Regions from separate parts of the Homo sapiens genome. Here region 1 is linked to region 2. A link means that fine-mapping ties the variant in region 2 to the expression of a gene that starts in the linked region. Tissue or cell type: nucleus accumbens. Region 2 holds a variant in brackets; the other region holds the start of a gene. All regions are shown on one strand. Distances are between the middles of the regions.

The links. PIP is the estimated chance that this variant, and not a neighbour inherited with it, causes the effect.
Region 1: it holds the start of CRCP, and the variant in region 2 is fine-mapped to the expression of CRCP in nucleus accumbens (GTEx, PIP above 0.99).

The regions. Positions count from the first base shown.
Region 1 is chr7:66,110,469-66,118,571 of GRCh38, forward strand. CRCP (CGRP receptor component) reads left to right here and starts at 4,379. Exons shown (of 6, transcript NM_014478.5): 1 at 4,379-4,502. The coding sequence starts at 4,495. RefSeq lists silencers at 3,255-3,445, 4,874-5,168 and enhancers at 4,092-4,221, 4,759-5,287.
Region 2 is chr7:66,977,495-66,985,597 of GRCh38, forward strand. It overlaps the pseudogene RN7SL43P. Among named protein-coding and RNA genes, the nearest start is that of SBDS, 14 kb to the right of the region's middle. The variant A/AC (reference allele first, on the strand shown) is at 4,851.

The sequences.
Region 1 (8,103 bases), 870 kb before region 2:
AGAAAATCCAGGATAATCTTTTCTTCTTAAGGTCCATACCCTTAATTGTCATGGTGATCAGCGACTATCCAGGACCAGAGGTGCAGACAGTAAAAAGAATGTTTACTCGGCTCACTGCAACCTCCGCTTCCCGGGCTCAAGTGGTTCTCCTACCTCAGTCTCCTGAGTAGCTGGGATTACAGGCGCCTGCCACCATGCCCGGCTAATTTTTGTATTTTCAGTAGAGATGAGGTTTCACCATGTTGGCCAGGCTGGTCTTGAACTCTTGGACTCAAGTGATCCACCCGCCTTGGCCTCCCGAAATGATGGGATGACAGGCATGAGCCACCGCACCTGGCCTACCGGGTATCATTCGAACACCCAGCTAACTCCCTACTCTAAGTCACACCTGAGCCATTTTATCATGGGGGCTGTCAGAGGCACTGCTGTTTTTCACTGAAGCCCATACCCAATCCCTCGGCCTCGTGTGCTTTTCCCTCACCCACTTCAAAGGCCCGTGGCTTTGGGACGCCTCTCCACCTCATTAGTCATTCCCTCCCCTGCCCATCGCGTCGAAACACAATGCATTGTGGTTATTTATGTCCAGAGCTGGTTCCTCAACTAGGCTGTCAGCTAGCCAGTGCAGAGGGTGTGTGTTAGTCACATTTGTATCATCAGCCCCCGATGGGCCATGGCTACATACTTGTTGAGTGAATAACACAAGGGGCATCTTTAGCATTTCTTTGTGGGGCCCAATCTCCTCAGCGAAGGTACAGGGAATTCTCCACACTAACTAGGCCAGCTGGGTCTGGGTGGCATTTTATGACTTTTTTGTTGTCGTTATTTTGCGATGGAGTCTTGCTCTGTCACCCAGGCTGGAGTGCAGTGGCGTGATCTGCAACCTCCGCCTCCCAGATTCAGACGATGCTCCTGCCTCAGCCTCCTGAGTAGCTACGATTACAGGCACGAGCCATCAAGCTGGTTAATTTCTATTTTTTTGGTAAAGATGAGGTTTCACCATGTTGCCCATGCTGGTCTCAAACTGGGCTCAAGCGATCCACCTGCCTTCATCTTCCAAAGTGCTGGGATTACAGGTGTGGACCACCACACTCAGCAGAGTAAAAAATGTTTAACAGCTTTATTAATATAGGATTAATATGCTGTACAATATGCCATTTAAAGTATACAACTCAGTGTCTTCAGTATATTCACAGGGTTGTGCAACCACCACCACCATCTATAATAATTTTAGACAATTTCTGTTTCCCAAAGAGAAACTCCCTACTTATTAGCAATCACTTCCCATCCTTGCCCCCAACCTAGCCTTCTGTCTGTATCCATAGATTGGCCTCTTCTTGGACATTCTATATAAAGTGAATCATACCATATGTATTCTTTTTTTTTTTTTTCTAGAAGGAGTCTCATTCTGTCACCCAGGCTGGAGTGCAGTGGCGTGATCTCGGCTCACTGCAACCTCCGCCTCCTGGGTTCAAGCAATTTTCCTGCCTCAGTCTCCCGAGTAGCTGGGATTACAGGTGCCCCCCACCACACCCAGCTACTTTTTGTATTTTTAGTAGAGACGGGGTTTCACCATGTTGGCTAGGCTGGTCTCGAACTACTGACCTCATGATCTGCCTGCCTCAGTCTCCTAAAGTGCTGGGATTACAGGCGTGAGCCACCACGCCTGGCGATTTTTGTATTTTCGGTAGAGACAGGGTTTCCCCATGTTAGCCAGGCTGGTCTTGAACTCCTGATCTCAGATGATCCACCCACCTCAGCCACCCAAAGTGCTGGGATTACAGGCGTGAGCCACCTGGCCAGGCAATATATATTATTTTGTGTCTGGCTTCTTTCACTTATTAATAGCATCATGTTTTGGGAGGTTATCCATCTTGCAGCATTTATCTATCAGTCTGTCTATATATATTTTTTGCAACAAGGTCTCTCACTCTGTAGGCTGGAGTGCAGTGGTGTGATCATAGTTCCCTGCAGCCTCTACCTTCTGGCTCAAGCGATTCTCCTACCTCAGCCTCCCCAGTAGCTGGGACTAGAGGTGCTCACCACCACACCTGGCTAACTTTTCGTAGTTAGGGGGTCTAGCTATGTTGCCCAGGCTGCTCTGGAACTCCTTGTCTCAAGAAATCCTCCTGCCTCTGCTCCCCAAAGTGCTGAGATCAAGCCTGGCCTCCTTTTTATTTTTATATTTTTGAGACAGAGTCTTGCCCTGTCTTCCAGGCTGGAGTGCAGTGGCACGATCTTGGCTCACTGCAAGCTCTGCCTTCTGGGTTCACGCCATTCTCCTGCCTCAGCCTCCCTAGTAGCTGGGACTACAGGCGCCCACCACCACGCCCGGCTAATTTTTTTTGTATTTTTAGTAGAGACGGGGTTTCACCCTGTTAGCCAGGATGGTCTCGATCTCCTGACATCGTGATCTGCCCGCCTCGGCCTCCCAAAGTGCTGGGATTACAGGCGTGAGCCACCGTGCCCGGCCAGCCTCCTTTTTAAGTAGTTTTCCATTGCACAAATGTAGCACATTTTATTCATCCACTCATCAGTCTCTAGTTAATGCATCTGTTGTATATGTTCAGATTGGCTGGGGTTCAATACCCACTGGACAACTTCCTAGATGAGTGACTTTTGGTAAATCATAATCTCTCCAAGTCTGCCTCAGTTTCTTCAATTATAAAATGTCAATAATAATGCAATGTACCTCATAGAGAGTCATGGTTGTATTGCCACAGTAATTAATAAAGTGCCAGGAACTTTATAAGGATTATTTAACACCCTTATTATTTACAAAGTAGGCAACAGAGGCTATTGTGGTGGTTCACACCTGTAATCCCAGCACTTTGGGAGTTGGAGGTGGGAGGATCACTTGAGGCGAGGAGTTCAAGACCAGCCTGGGCAACACAGTGAGACCCCCATCTCTACAAAAAAATTAAAAAATTTTGTAGCTGACTCTTTGGACAATAAAGAATTTTATTTTAGAAAATTAGCCAGGTGGCTGGGTGCAGTGGCTCACGCCTGTAATCCCAACACTTTGGGAGGCTGATGAGGGTGGATCACAAGGTCAGGAGTTCAAGACCAGCTTGGCCAAGATGGTGAAACCCCGTCTCTACTAAAAAAATACAAAAATTAGCTGGGCATTATGGCGGGCACCTGTAATCCTAGCTACTGGGGAGGCTGAGGCAGGGAACTGCTTGAATCCAGGAGGCAGAGGTTGCAATGAGCCGAGATCACGACACTGCACTCCAGCCTGGGCAACAGAGTGAGACTGATCTCAAAAAAAAAAAAAAAGAAAAAGAAAAAGAAAAAAAGAAAATTAGCCAGGTGTAGCGGAGCGCACCTGTGGTCCCAGCTACTCTGGCAGGCTGGGGTGGGAGGATTGCTTGAGCCCAGGAGTTCAAGGCTGCAGTGAGCTCTGATTGCACCACTGCATTCCAGCCTGGGCGACAGAGCAAGACCCTGTCTCTTAAAAAATAAATAAATAAACTGCAATGTTTCTGGCAGCCCAGATGCCACCAGCCTCACTACTCTCTGAGAGGTGGGATTTTAACATGCAAAGGCCCACTAACCCGATCACGTCTCACAACTTCAGCTGATTAATACTTTGTTAAAACCTAGACCACGAAAACAGACAGAGCCCGGCGAGGTGGCTCACGCCTGTAATCCCAACACTTTGGGAGGCCGAAGCGGGTGGATCACGAGGTCAGGAGTTCAAGACTAGCCTGGCCAAGATGATGAAACCCCGTCTCTACTAAAAAATACACAAATTAGCTAGGCGTTATGGCGGGCGCCTGTAATCCCAGCTACTCGGGAGGCTGAGGCAGGGAATTGCTTGAACCTGGGAGGCAGAGATTGCAGTGAGCCGAGATCGTGCCACTGCACTCCAGCCTGGGTGACAGAGCGAGACTCTGTCTCAAAAAAGAAAAAAAGAGGCTGGGCACGGTGCCTCACGCCTGTAATCCCAGGACTTTGGGAGGCCGAGGCGGGCGGATCACGAGGTCAGGAGATTGAAACCATCCTGGCTAACACGGTGAAACCCCGTCTCTACTAAAAACACAAAAAATTAGCCGGGCTTGGTGGCAAGCGCCTGTAGTCCCAGCTACTTGGGAGGCTGAGGCAGAAGGAGAATCGCTTGAACCCAGGAGGCGGAGGTTGCAGTAAGCCGAGATCCAGCCTGGGCGACAGAGCGAGACTCCGTCTCAAAAAAAAAAAAAGGTTAAAGAAAAAAAGAAAAGAAAACACAAGATAATCCTGTCCGCAAACGCTTAGCAGTCTTAAATCGGCCTGGTGGAAGGATGCAGGGACACTCCCCCACCCTGCCCCCCGAAAAAGGGGAACGCGCAGCGCGAGGTTCCGGGTCCGCCAAGCTCCCGGCATGCAGCGCGGCGATCCCGGCGAGCACCTTGGCGCGCGGAGCTGGCACCTTGGCGCTGTTGGTGGCGGCGGAGACAGCTGTGAAGTGTGAGGTTCTTTGTCTGCTGGCAGCTAGGGGCGACGAGGCGGGACGTCATGGAAGTGTAAGTCTTCTCGGGCGCGTCCCTTTTCGCCCGAGGAGCCCAACGGTTTGACCGCTGAGAGCTGAGAGCCGAGAGCCGTGGGGACTGGGCGACCCTCGTACGGGAGTGAGGGCAGCGGGCCGGCCCTGTCCGGGAGGGCCGCGGGGTGGTGACGGGGACGAACGGGACTCTCGCTTTGCCCTTCCGAACCTTCGCTTCCCCTCCACGCCGTGTCTGGTGCGGGGCCGAGCACTTCCGTGTCCGGCTGCCTTTCAATGTGCCCCCTCCTTCTCTCATTCGTTTACCAGCGTTTCTGGGTCACAGTGCGGGGGTGGAGCCCAGTCTGGTATCCGACCCCGGACTTAGAAGGCTATAAAGGCCTGAGTCTGTCCGCCCTGAAAGTAGGTGGAGGAGAGACGAATCAGGGCCGGGTAGAGCTCTGCTTGCAGCTGTAGGCCCCTGGAGAGCCCTCGGAAGAGCTGCCCTCGGAATTTGATGGGAGCAGTAAACACTGTGAGGGAAGGGGCTGGTTTTGGGGTGGAGAAGGGAAGGACGTGAACCAGGACTGGGACCAGAGAAACAGCAGGGGGTGTGTGGGTGTGTGTGCAAGGCGAGGGTAAAAGATTTTCTGACAGTTTAACTCCACGTGGTCTTTTCCATGCTTGCTCGTTGCGCCTGGTGCAAATGGAAGATTTTGCATCTACTCTGAATGTGGGCTTTATACGGTTGATATTAATTTGTAGGTATTACTATCTTGTGTTCTCTTTGAACTGATTATTTGATACAGTTTCCTTTATGTTCTTTTGCCTCATGTTTAATGGTTATATGTACTATGGCATTTCACATTTTTACATTTTTAATTAATTGTTTTTTCTTAAGAAACAGGGTCTTGCTCTGTCCCCCAGGCGGGGTGTAATCATGGTTCACTGCAGCCTCACTTTCTGGACTCAAGCAATCCTGCTTCAGCCTCTTCAGTAGCTGGGACTACAGGCCCACGCCATCACTCACCGCTAATTTTTTAAAAAAAGTTTTGTAGATGCAGGGTCTCACTACAGCCCAGGCTGGTCTCCAGCTCCTGAGCTCAAGTGATCCTCCTGCTTTGTACTCCCAAAGTCCTGGGATTGCAGGCGTGAGCCACTTCACCTGGCCTCTTCCGATTTTTTTTTAAACACAATATGTCTGTGTAACTGAAATGAAAGGCTCATGAAACAATAATGTGTGGCGTACACTCTCATATTGTCTATTTTTTATTAATATGAATGGGGCCAACCGTGGTGGCTCACACCAGCAATCCCAGCACTTTGGGAAGCTTAGGCAGAAGGATCACTTGAACCTGGGAGGTGGAGACCAGCCTGGGCAACATAGGGAGACCCTGTCTCTGCAAAAAATTAAGAAGTTAGCTGGGTGTGGTGGTTCATGCCTGTAGTCTCAGCTACTTACGAGGCTGAGATGGGAGGATCACTTGATCCCAGGAGGCTGCAATGAGCTGAGATAGAGCCACTACACTCCTGCCAGAGTGACAGTGTAAGGCTCTGTCTTAAAAAAAAAAAAAAAAAAAAATTGAACCACTGAATTAATTTTGCAACCCACTGATGGGATTTCATCTGCAACCTAAAAAACTATTCATATAATTTACTCTAGTCCAAGCCATCATTACTAATTTTTCCCTCTTTACTAGAGCATTTCCTGTGAGCATACAACCCTGCTTTAGAGAATTCATCTTAGAAAATCCTCCGTCCCCACATACATGTCCCCCTCTTACTCCATTTCTGCTTCCCATCCCAACAAAACTTCTTGAAAGTGCTGATTAGCCCCTCATTCTCTCAGCCATTCTGTTGGGCTTTCATCCTCACTGGTCTACGGGAATGACTGTTAAGATTACCTGAACCAGCGGGGCGTGGTGGCTCATGCCTATAATCGCAGCACTTTAGGAGGCCGAAGTGGGCGAATCCCCTGAGGTCAGGAGTTTGAGACCAGCCTGGCCAACATGGCATAACCTCCTCTCTACTAAAAATACAAAAATTAACTGGGTGTAGTGGTGGGCGCCTGTAATCCCAGTAACTCAGGAGGCTGAGGCAGGAGAATCGCTTGAACTCGGGAGGCAGGGGTTGCAGTGAACCAAATTGTGCCACTGCACTCCAGCCTAGGTGACAGGGCAAGACTGTCTCAAAAAAAAAAAAAAAAAAAACCTGATCCCTCCATCTTGTCAAATTCAGAGGTTGATTTTCTGGCCTCAACTTTCTTGATCTCTCAGCAGTGGTTAATACAGAAACTCTAGAAACTTTCCTTTTCTTGTGATGTATGTTCCTTTGCGTATTTCCTCCTACATCAAGGACTACTTCAGTGTCCTTCCCTGGGTCCCGTTCCTCTCTTGCTTGATGTCTAAGTGTTGAGTGGTATCTTAGGGCTCAGTCCTGGGACCCTTTCTCTCCACACTCTGTCATTTCACCCATCTATGTGCTGATGGTTCTCAAAGGTATGTTTCTAACCTTCTTCTCATCATCTATCCAATTGCATAGACCAAAAATCTAGCCCTCTCTCTTCACTCCCTAAATCCAGTCCATCAGTGGTCCTGTTGTTTCCACCCTAGAATATATTTTGAATGCAGTTACTTTTCACCATCTCCAATGTTAGCTTTGTAGTCCATCACCTCTGGGCTGGATTAAGCAATAGCCTTTGAGTGTTCACTCTTCCCCAGCCTCCATTCTGTTCTCCACATGGCAACTGGAGTGATCTTAAGTAATGATTGGAACATGTCGCTCCTGGGTAAAACCCTTCATTGACTTTCCATTGTACTTAGAGAAAATCTCCATCTCTTACCAGGACCTGCAAGACCCTGTAAAACCTCACCTACTCCCCAGCCTTACCACTTGCCACTCTCCCAACCTCCCAGACACACACTTTCCACTGACAGGTATTTCCTTCTCCTCTAACCTTCTAAGCACTTCCTGAGGACCATTGCGTTGTGGTACCCTCTGTCTGGTATACTTTCCTCCTCGCCCTCGTCCTGTTCTCTTCTTTTTATTGTTCTTTTTTTAGTTCGCTTTTGAGATGGAGTCTTGCTCTGTCACCCAGGCTGTAGTACAGTGGCGCAATGTCAGCTCACTGCAACCTGTGCCTCCAGGGTTCAAGATTCTCCTGCCTCAGCCTACCAAGTAGCTGGGATTACAGGCGTGTGCCACCACGCCCAGCTAATTTATGTATTTTTAGTAGAGACGGGGTTTCCATGTTGGCCAGACTGGTCTTGAATTCCTGACCTCAGGTGATTTGCCTGCCTCAGCCTCCCAAAGTGCTGGGATTACAGGCGTGAGCCACCACACCTGGCCACCTGTTCTTGAAGGTTGTGTCCCTTTTCAAAGTTGCCTTTCGTCTTCAGTAAGTCTAACTAACATAAGTTCTTTTTGTCTTTCATAGTACCTTGATTTACTTTCCCTCAAATAATTACAAGTTGCAATAATAAATGTATGTTTACTTGTTTGGAGGGTGGGGACCAGTGTCTGTTCACCTAGTGCTTAGCATTGCATCTGGCACACAGTAGGCATTCAGCAAATACTTGTTCAATAAAGTAATATAACAATACTTTATTAGCTTCATAAATATAGTCATCTCTCAGCGTCTTTGG
Region 2 (8,103 bases):
TTTTTTCTGAGACAGTTTCACTCTTGTGGCCCAGGCTGGAGTGCAATGGCGTGATCTCAGCTCACCGCAACCTCCGTCTCACGGGTTCAAGCAATTCTCCTGCCTCAGCCTCCCGAGTAGCTGGAATTACAGGCATGCGCCACCATGCCCAGCTAATTTTGTATTTTTGGTAGAGACAGGGTTTCTCCATGTTGGTCAGGCTGGTCTCGAACTCCTGACCTCAAGTGATCCGCCTGCCTTGGCCTCCCAACTTGCTGGGATTACAGGCCTGAGCCACCGCCTGGCCTCAAAGCTTCTTTTGTTAAAGGTTTGGGCTATTTTTTAGTAACTTTTAGTCTCATTGCATTTTTTCCCAGCTTCCTTTCCTTTTTTTTTTTTTTTAATTGAGACCGAGTCTTGCTTTGTTACCGAGGTTGGAGTGCAGTGATAAAATCTTGGCTCACGCCAACCTCCACCTCTCAGGTTCAAGCGATTCTCCTGCCTCAGCCTCCCAAGTAGCTGGGATTACAGGTGCCCACCACCACGCCCGGCTAATTTTTGTATTTTTAGTAGAGATGGCATTTCACCATGTTGGCAAGGCTGGTCTCGAACTCCTCACCTCAAGTGATATGCCTGCCTCAGCCTCCCAAGTGCTGGGATTATAGGCATGAGCCACCGCACCCAGCGCTTTCCTTTTCTCTTGATGTGACTTGCTAAACCACTTGACAAAGAAGCTGAGGTTATTAGGCTTTTCTTTTCACAAATAAGGTGAATGAATCATAAGCCCATGTCTGCTGCTTTATTTACTGAATTAGTGTTCTAAAAATAAAACAGCACTCTTTAAGTCCAACATTTATACCTAAATTCTGGGCCCTGAAATGTAATTGTGCACCTGGGCCCGTATTTAACTTCAAATTCTCCATCTGTGTAAGATGCATAATACCAGGTCTACTATGCAGACAGTTACGGTAAGTCAGACGATGTCTGAAAAACACTTGAGACACACAGTTGCCATGTTCTGTGTACTGACGGAAAGTATGAAATTAGCAAAACATGCAGGGAATATTCAGCTGTATTCATTACTGTGTTTGGGCAAAATACGGTAAAGAAATTGCTCAGCATAGTTTCTCTGAAGATGTTTGGGTATACTTAGTATGCTTTGCAAACCTTGGAATTGGATTTAATTTTTACTTAGAGAATTAAGCATCTAATTATTGCCACAAAAAATAGTAGATTAAGGCCATGCACAGTGGCTCACGCCTGTAATCCTAGCACTTTGGGAGGCTGAGGCAGGTGGATCACCTGGGTTCAAGGGTTCGAGACCAGCGTGGCCACTGTGATGAAACCCCGTCTCTAATAAAAAAAAAAAATTTAGCTGGGCATGGTAGGGGGCGCCTGTAATCCCAGCTACTTGGGAAGCTGAGGCAGGAGAATCACTTGAACCCAGGAGGCGGAGATTGCAGTGAGGAGAGATTGCCCCACTGCACTCCAGCCTGGGCAACAGAGCGAGACTCTGTCTCAAACAAACAAACAAAATAGTAGATTAAGTTTGGGCAACATAGGAAGACCCTGTCCCTACAAAAAGTTAAAATAATTAGCTAGGCGTGGTGGCACAAGCCTGTAGTTCCAGCAACTCTGGAGGCTGAGGCAGGAGGATTGATTGAACCTAAGAGTTCTAGGCTGCAGAGAGCTATGATTGCACCACTGCACTCTGTTACAGATGTATACATGTACTGAGTCATGATGGAAAATGGATTGATTTAGAAATGTTTGGGTATGATGGCTTGCTCATTGCCCTTCTATGGTTCACTATAGCTTAGGCTATTTGGAGAAAAGCAAAACATTTGAAAGCTGAAACATTCAAAACATTCAAAGATTCAAAGCTGAAATCTGTGATCCATGCCATGAAACTCAAGGAAAAAAAAATGCGGCAGTTATTTTAGTGGCACCAAGTCCTGGGGCTCCTGGATCCCAGCCTAGGAGGAGAGGGACGTGAAGAAAAGTAAGGGCCAGCACATTTTGACTGTTCTGGGGAAAAGGAACTGCAGCAAGAAGTAACTGCTCTGCTCAAAACATTCCTATTCTCTCTCTCTCTCGTCTCACTCTGTCACTCAGGCTGGAGTGCAGTGGTGCGATCTCGGCTCACTGCAACCTGTGCCTCCTGGGTTCATGTGATTCTCCTGCCTCAGTCTCCCTAGTAGTTGGGATTACAGGTACCTACCACCACTCCCAGCTAATTTTTTGTATTTTTAGTAGAGAAGGGATTTCACCATTTTGGCCAGGCTGGCCTCGAACTCCTGACCTTGGGTGATCCGCCTGCCTCAGCCTTCCAAAATGCTGGGATTATAGGCATGAGCCAACGCGCCTGGCCAGCCTCTCTTTATTGGGAGCTTTCCATCCACTCTCCATCTCTTCTGCCTTTTCTTTTTAAATCTCCTCATCACTTCCTTGCAAACTCTCCATGCCTCCTAGTGCCTGAGGTAGGTATAAGACAGCTTGAAACCAGTAATCTACAATTCTTTCCTGGGCTTTCCGTTCTCACAACAGAGTCTGTGTCACCTGCTAAGGTACTGAAACTGACTCAGTTCTTTCATAGAGCAGATGTTTATGGTTTCTTTTGAATAAACATAGAAATTGACACTTCTAGCCTGGTGTGGTGGAGTGTGCTGGTATTCCCAGCTACTTGGGAGGCTGAGGCGGGAGGATCCTTTGAGCCCAGGAGTTCTGGGCTGTAGTGCGCTATGCCAATCAGGTGTCTGCACTAAGTTTAGCATCAACTTCCTGGGAGTGGGGGACCACCAGGTTGCTTAAGGAGGGGTTAACCAGTTCAGGTCGGAGACTGAGCAGGTCAAAACTCCTGTGCTGATGAGTAGTGGCATCACGCCTGTGAATAGCCACTGCACTTCAGCCTGGGCAACATAGTGAGACCCTGTCTCAAAACAAAACAAAAGCAAAAGCAAAAAGAGAAACAAATTGACCTTTCCAGTCTTGAAATTTGAGAAAGTGACATTTGCCTTATCTGAGTTCCTTTCTCAGGAAATCAACCATCAAGCCTCCCAGATGGTATCAAGGAACTGAAACTTACCAGATCACTGCATTTGGACAATGAGATGCAGAACCCCTCATCTGTCATAATGGCCTAACAGACCACCTGCTGCCTGTTGATCAACTCCTCTTCCTTACCCCTCCCTAATTCCTGTTTTACTGCATGTAGTTACATTTCTTCCTTCCTATATAAACCTCTAATTTTAGTTGGTCAGGGAGACAAATTTGAAACTGATCTCCCATCTCCTTGGCTGGAGCACCCAATTAAAGCCTTCTTCCCTGGCACTACTGATTGGCTTTCTGTGCAGCAAGCGGCAGGACCTACACCAAACCCCTGGCATTTTGGCAACAGCACTGGTCATGCTAGGGAAAAAGTTCAAGATCTCAACTTCCAAGACCCAGGGAAGCCTCTCACAATTTCTAAAGGGCAGGGCAGAAGAGATCTTTGAAAGTGAATCTGAATGAGAATAAAAGTGCAGTTTCACTTTAAATTTTCCAAAAAGCTTATTAAATTGGTATTTTCATATGCTTTTGAAAACTTTATTTATTTATTTATTTAGAGACAGAGTCTCACTCTGTCACCTAGGTTGGAGTGCAGTGGCGTGCTCTCGTCTCACTGCAACCTCTGCCTTTCAGGCTCAAGCGATTCTCCTGCCTCAGCCTCCTGAGTAGCTGGGATTACAGGTGGCACCACCACCATGCCCAGCTAATTTTTGTATTTTTTTTTTTTTTTGAGACAGATTTCGCTAGTTTCGCCCTTGTTGCCCAGGCTGGAGTGCGATGGTGCAAACTTGGCTCACTGCAACCTCCACCTCCCTGGTTCAAGTGATTCTCCTGCCTCAGCCTCCCAAGTACGTGGGATTACAGGTGCCCACCACCACATCCAGCTGATTTTTTGTGTTTTAGTGGATATGGGGTTTCACCATGTTGGCGAGGCTGGTCTTGAACTCCTGTCCTCAAGTGATCCACCAGCCTTGGCATCCCAGAAGGATGGGATTATAGGCATGAGCCACTGCGCCTGGCCTAATTTTTATATTTTCAGTAGAGATGAGGTTTCACCACATTGGCCAGGCTGGTCTCGAACTCCTGACCTCAGGTGATCCGCCTACCTCTGCCTCCCAAAGTGCTGGGATTGCAGGCATGAGCTACCGTGACTGGCTGAAAACTTTATTTCAAAACTAATCATGCTGGTTGTAATATGCTTGTGTAGGTTACATGTATATTTTTCCACAGATTTTTCTATGCTCTTTCAACCGTATATACACCTGTACACACATATTTAGGGTTTTTCCTCCAAAAAAGTGACAAAAATGGGATCACGCCATAATACATTCCTCCATAGTTTTATTCCCTCTTCCATCTCTACCCCTCCTCCACTTATTACCATGGACATCCCTGTAGGACATACGGGAAGATGTCTCATTTGTTAAAATATACTTAATATTCCACAATAGGCTGGGTGCAGTTGCCCACACCTGTAATCCCAGCACTTTTGGGAGGCTGAGATGGGCCGGATCACCTGAGGTCAGGAGTTCAAAACCAGCCTGGCCAAAATAGGGATACCCTGTCTTTACTAAAAGTACAAAAATTAGCCAGGCATGGTGATGCGTGCCTGTAGTCCCTGCTATTCAGGAGCTGAGGCAGGAAAATCACTTGAATCCGGGAGTTGGAGGTGGCAGTGAGCTGAGATTGCACTACTGCACTCCAACCTGGGCAACAGGGCGAGACTCCATCTCAAAAAAAAAAAAAAAAAAAAAAAAAAATCCACAATAAGTAGATGTTACAATTCATTTAACTATAGGTTGAGTATCCCTAATCTGAAAAAA[A/AC]CCCCAAATTAGAAACATAATGCTCAAAGGAAATGGTCCCTGAGCATTTTGATTTTTGAATTTTTGAATTAGGCATGAAAATATGCCAAAATCTGAAAAAATATCTGAAATTTTAAATACTTATTTCCCAAGCATTTGGAATAAGTGATACTCAGCCTATATTTGCTATTGATGGCCATTTTCAGTTTTTACTAATACAAGCAGAAAATAACATTAGAATTTAGGTAATTTTATTTCTGGCAGATAGATGCCTAAAGAGCAATCAATTGCTGTATCAAATGGTGCACATGGCCAGGTACAGTGGTTCATGCCTATAATCTCAGGGCTTTGGGAGGTCGGGGTGGTAGGATTGCTTGAGGCCAGGAGTTTGAGACCAGCCTGAGCAACATAGCAAGGCTCTGTATCTACGAAAAATAAAAAAAAATTAGCCGGGCATGGTGGTGCCTGCCTGTCTTCCCAGGTACTCAGGAGGCTGAGGTGGGAGGATCACTTGAGCCAGGGAGGTTGAGGCTGTAGTGAGCAGTGATCTTGCTACTGCACTCCAGCCTGGGCGACAGAGCAAGACCCTCCTCCTGCAACAACAACAACAAAAAAAAGTGCACATATTTAAAAATTTTAAGATACCACCAGGCCAGGTGCAGTGGCTCATGCCGTAATCCCAGCACTTTGGGAGGCTGAGGCAGGTGGATCTCCTGAGGTCAAGAGTTTGAGACCTGGCCAGGCATGGTGGCTCACTCTTGTAATCCCAGCACTTTGGGAGGCTGAGGCAGGCGGATCATGAGGTCAGGAGTTCGAGACCAGCCTGGTCAACACAGTGAAACCCCGTCTCTACTAAAAATATAAAAATTAGCTGGGCATGGAGGCGGGTGCCTGTAATCCCAGCTACTGGGGAGGCTGAGGCATGAGAATTGCTTGAACCTGGGAGGTGGAGGTTGCAATGAGCCGAGATCACGCCACTGCACTCCAGCCTGGGTGACAGAGCTAGACTTCATTTCAAAAAAACAAAACAAAACAAAAAAACAGAGTTTGAGACCAGCCTGGCCAACATGGTGAAACCTCGTCTCTACTAAAAATACAAAAAAAAAAAAAAATTATCTGGGCGTGGTGGCATGCACCTGTAATCCCAGCTACTTGGAGAGGCTGAGGCAGGAGAATCGCTTGAACCCAGGAAGCAGAGTTTGCAGTGAGCCAAGATCGTGCCACTGTACTCCAGCCTAGGCAACAAAGGGAGACTCCATCACAAAAAAAGATACCACCAAATTACTTTCTTGAAAGGTTAGAGCCAGTTATGCTTCTATCAGTAAATGCATGAACGTGCCTGTTCCTTCACTTCCTTGCCAATATCACAATTAATCTCTTACCTTTTCTTCAATATGATGGGTAGAAAATGATTTCTCATTGTTTAGCATTTCTCTGAGAGAAGCTGAATATCCTATTTTGCATTTAATTTTAAATTAATGTGTCAATTTTCCCCATGCTTAGGGGTGAATATTAGACCTTTTTCTTGGTTGGTCATAACTTATTGGCATTTTACCTGTCTTACCTGTTGCACATATTTTCTCCTAGCCATAATTTTTTTTTTTTTTTTTTTTTTTTTTTTGAGACAGAGTCTTATTCTCTGTCGCCTAGGCTGGAGTGCAATGGCACAATGTCAGCTCACTGCATCCTCCGCTTCCTGGGCTCAAGAGATTCTTCTGCCTCAGCTTCCTGAGTAGCTGGGATTACAGGCGCGTGCCACCATGCTCAGATAATTTTTTTTTTTTTTGTATTTTTAGTAGAGACAGGGTTTTACCATGTTGCCCAGGCTGGTATTGAACTCCTGACTTAAAGTGATCCACCAGCTTTGGCCTCCCAAAGTGCTGGGATTACAGGCATGAGCCACTGTGCCTAGCTGAGCCATAATATCTTTAAACTTTTTTCTTGAGACAGGGTCTCACTGTGTTGCCTAGGCTGAGTGCAGTGGCCTGATCATGGTTCACTGCATCCTCAACCTCTCAGGCTCAAGCAATCCTCCTACCTCAGCCTTTCTAGTAGCTGGGACTACAGGCATGTGTCATTATACCCAGTTAATTCTTTTTTTTTTTTTTTTGAGACGGAGTCTTGTTCTGTCGCCTAGGCTCAGGCTGGAGTGCTATGGTGCAATCTCAACTCACTGCAACCTTTGCCTCCCGGGTTCAAGCGATTCTCCTGCCTCAGGCTCCCAAGTAGCTGGGACTACAGGCACGTGCCACTACACCCGGCTAATTTTTTGTATTTTTAGTAGAGATGGGGTTTCACCGTGTTAGCCAGGCTGGTCTTGAACTTCTGACCTCAGGTGATCTGCCCGCCTCAACCTCCCAAGTGCTGGCATTACAGGCGTGAGCCACTGCACCCAGCCTACACCCAGTTAATTCTTTAATTTTTGTACAGACAGAGTCTTGCTATGTTGCTCAGGCTGGTCTTGAACTCCTGGACTCAAGCGATGCTCCTGCCTTGGTCTCCCAAAGTGCTGGGATTATAGGCATGAGCCACTGTGCCTGGACTCTTTAAACTTTCTTTAAAGTGTCTTCTGTCATTCTGAAATTTTACATTTTTATGTAGTTAAATCTGTTGGTATTTTCCTTGATAATTTTTAGGTTTCTGTTTTTCTTAAGAAAGTCTTTTAACCCTTAGGTTAAATATTTCCTTATATTTTCTACTAACTCACAGTTTTTTGTTGTTGTTGTTTGTTTGTTTTTTGAGATGGAGTCTCGCTCTGTCGCCCAGGCTGGAGTGCAGTGGTGTGATCTTGGCTCACTGCAATCTCCATCTTCCAGGGTCAAGTGATTCTCCTGCCTCAGCCTCCCGAGTAGCTGGGACTACAGACACGTGCCACCACTCCCGGCTAATTTTTTGTATTTTTAGTAGAGACGGGGTTTCACCGTGTTAGCCAGGATGGTCTCCATCTCCTGACATCGTGATCCGGCAGCCTTGGCCTCCCCAAGTGTTGAGATTACAGGTGTAAGCCAGTATCTGATAGTTTTATGTTTACATTTAGTTCTGATATAAAATATATTTTTTTTGAGATGGAGTTTTGCTCTTGTCACCCAGGCTGGAGTGTAGTGGCAGAATCTTGGCTCACTGCAACCTCTGCCTCCTAGGTTCAAGAGATTCTCTAGCCTCAGCCTCTTGAGCAGCTGGGATTACAGGCGGCCGCCACCATGCCCAGCTAATTTCTTTTTTTTTTTGAGTCAGCGTCTCGCTCTGTCACCCAGGCTGGAGTGCAGTGGCTCAC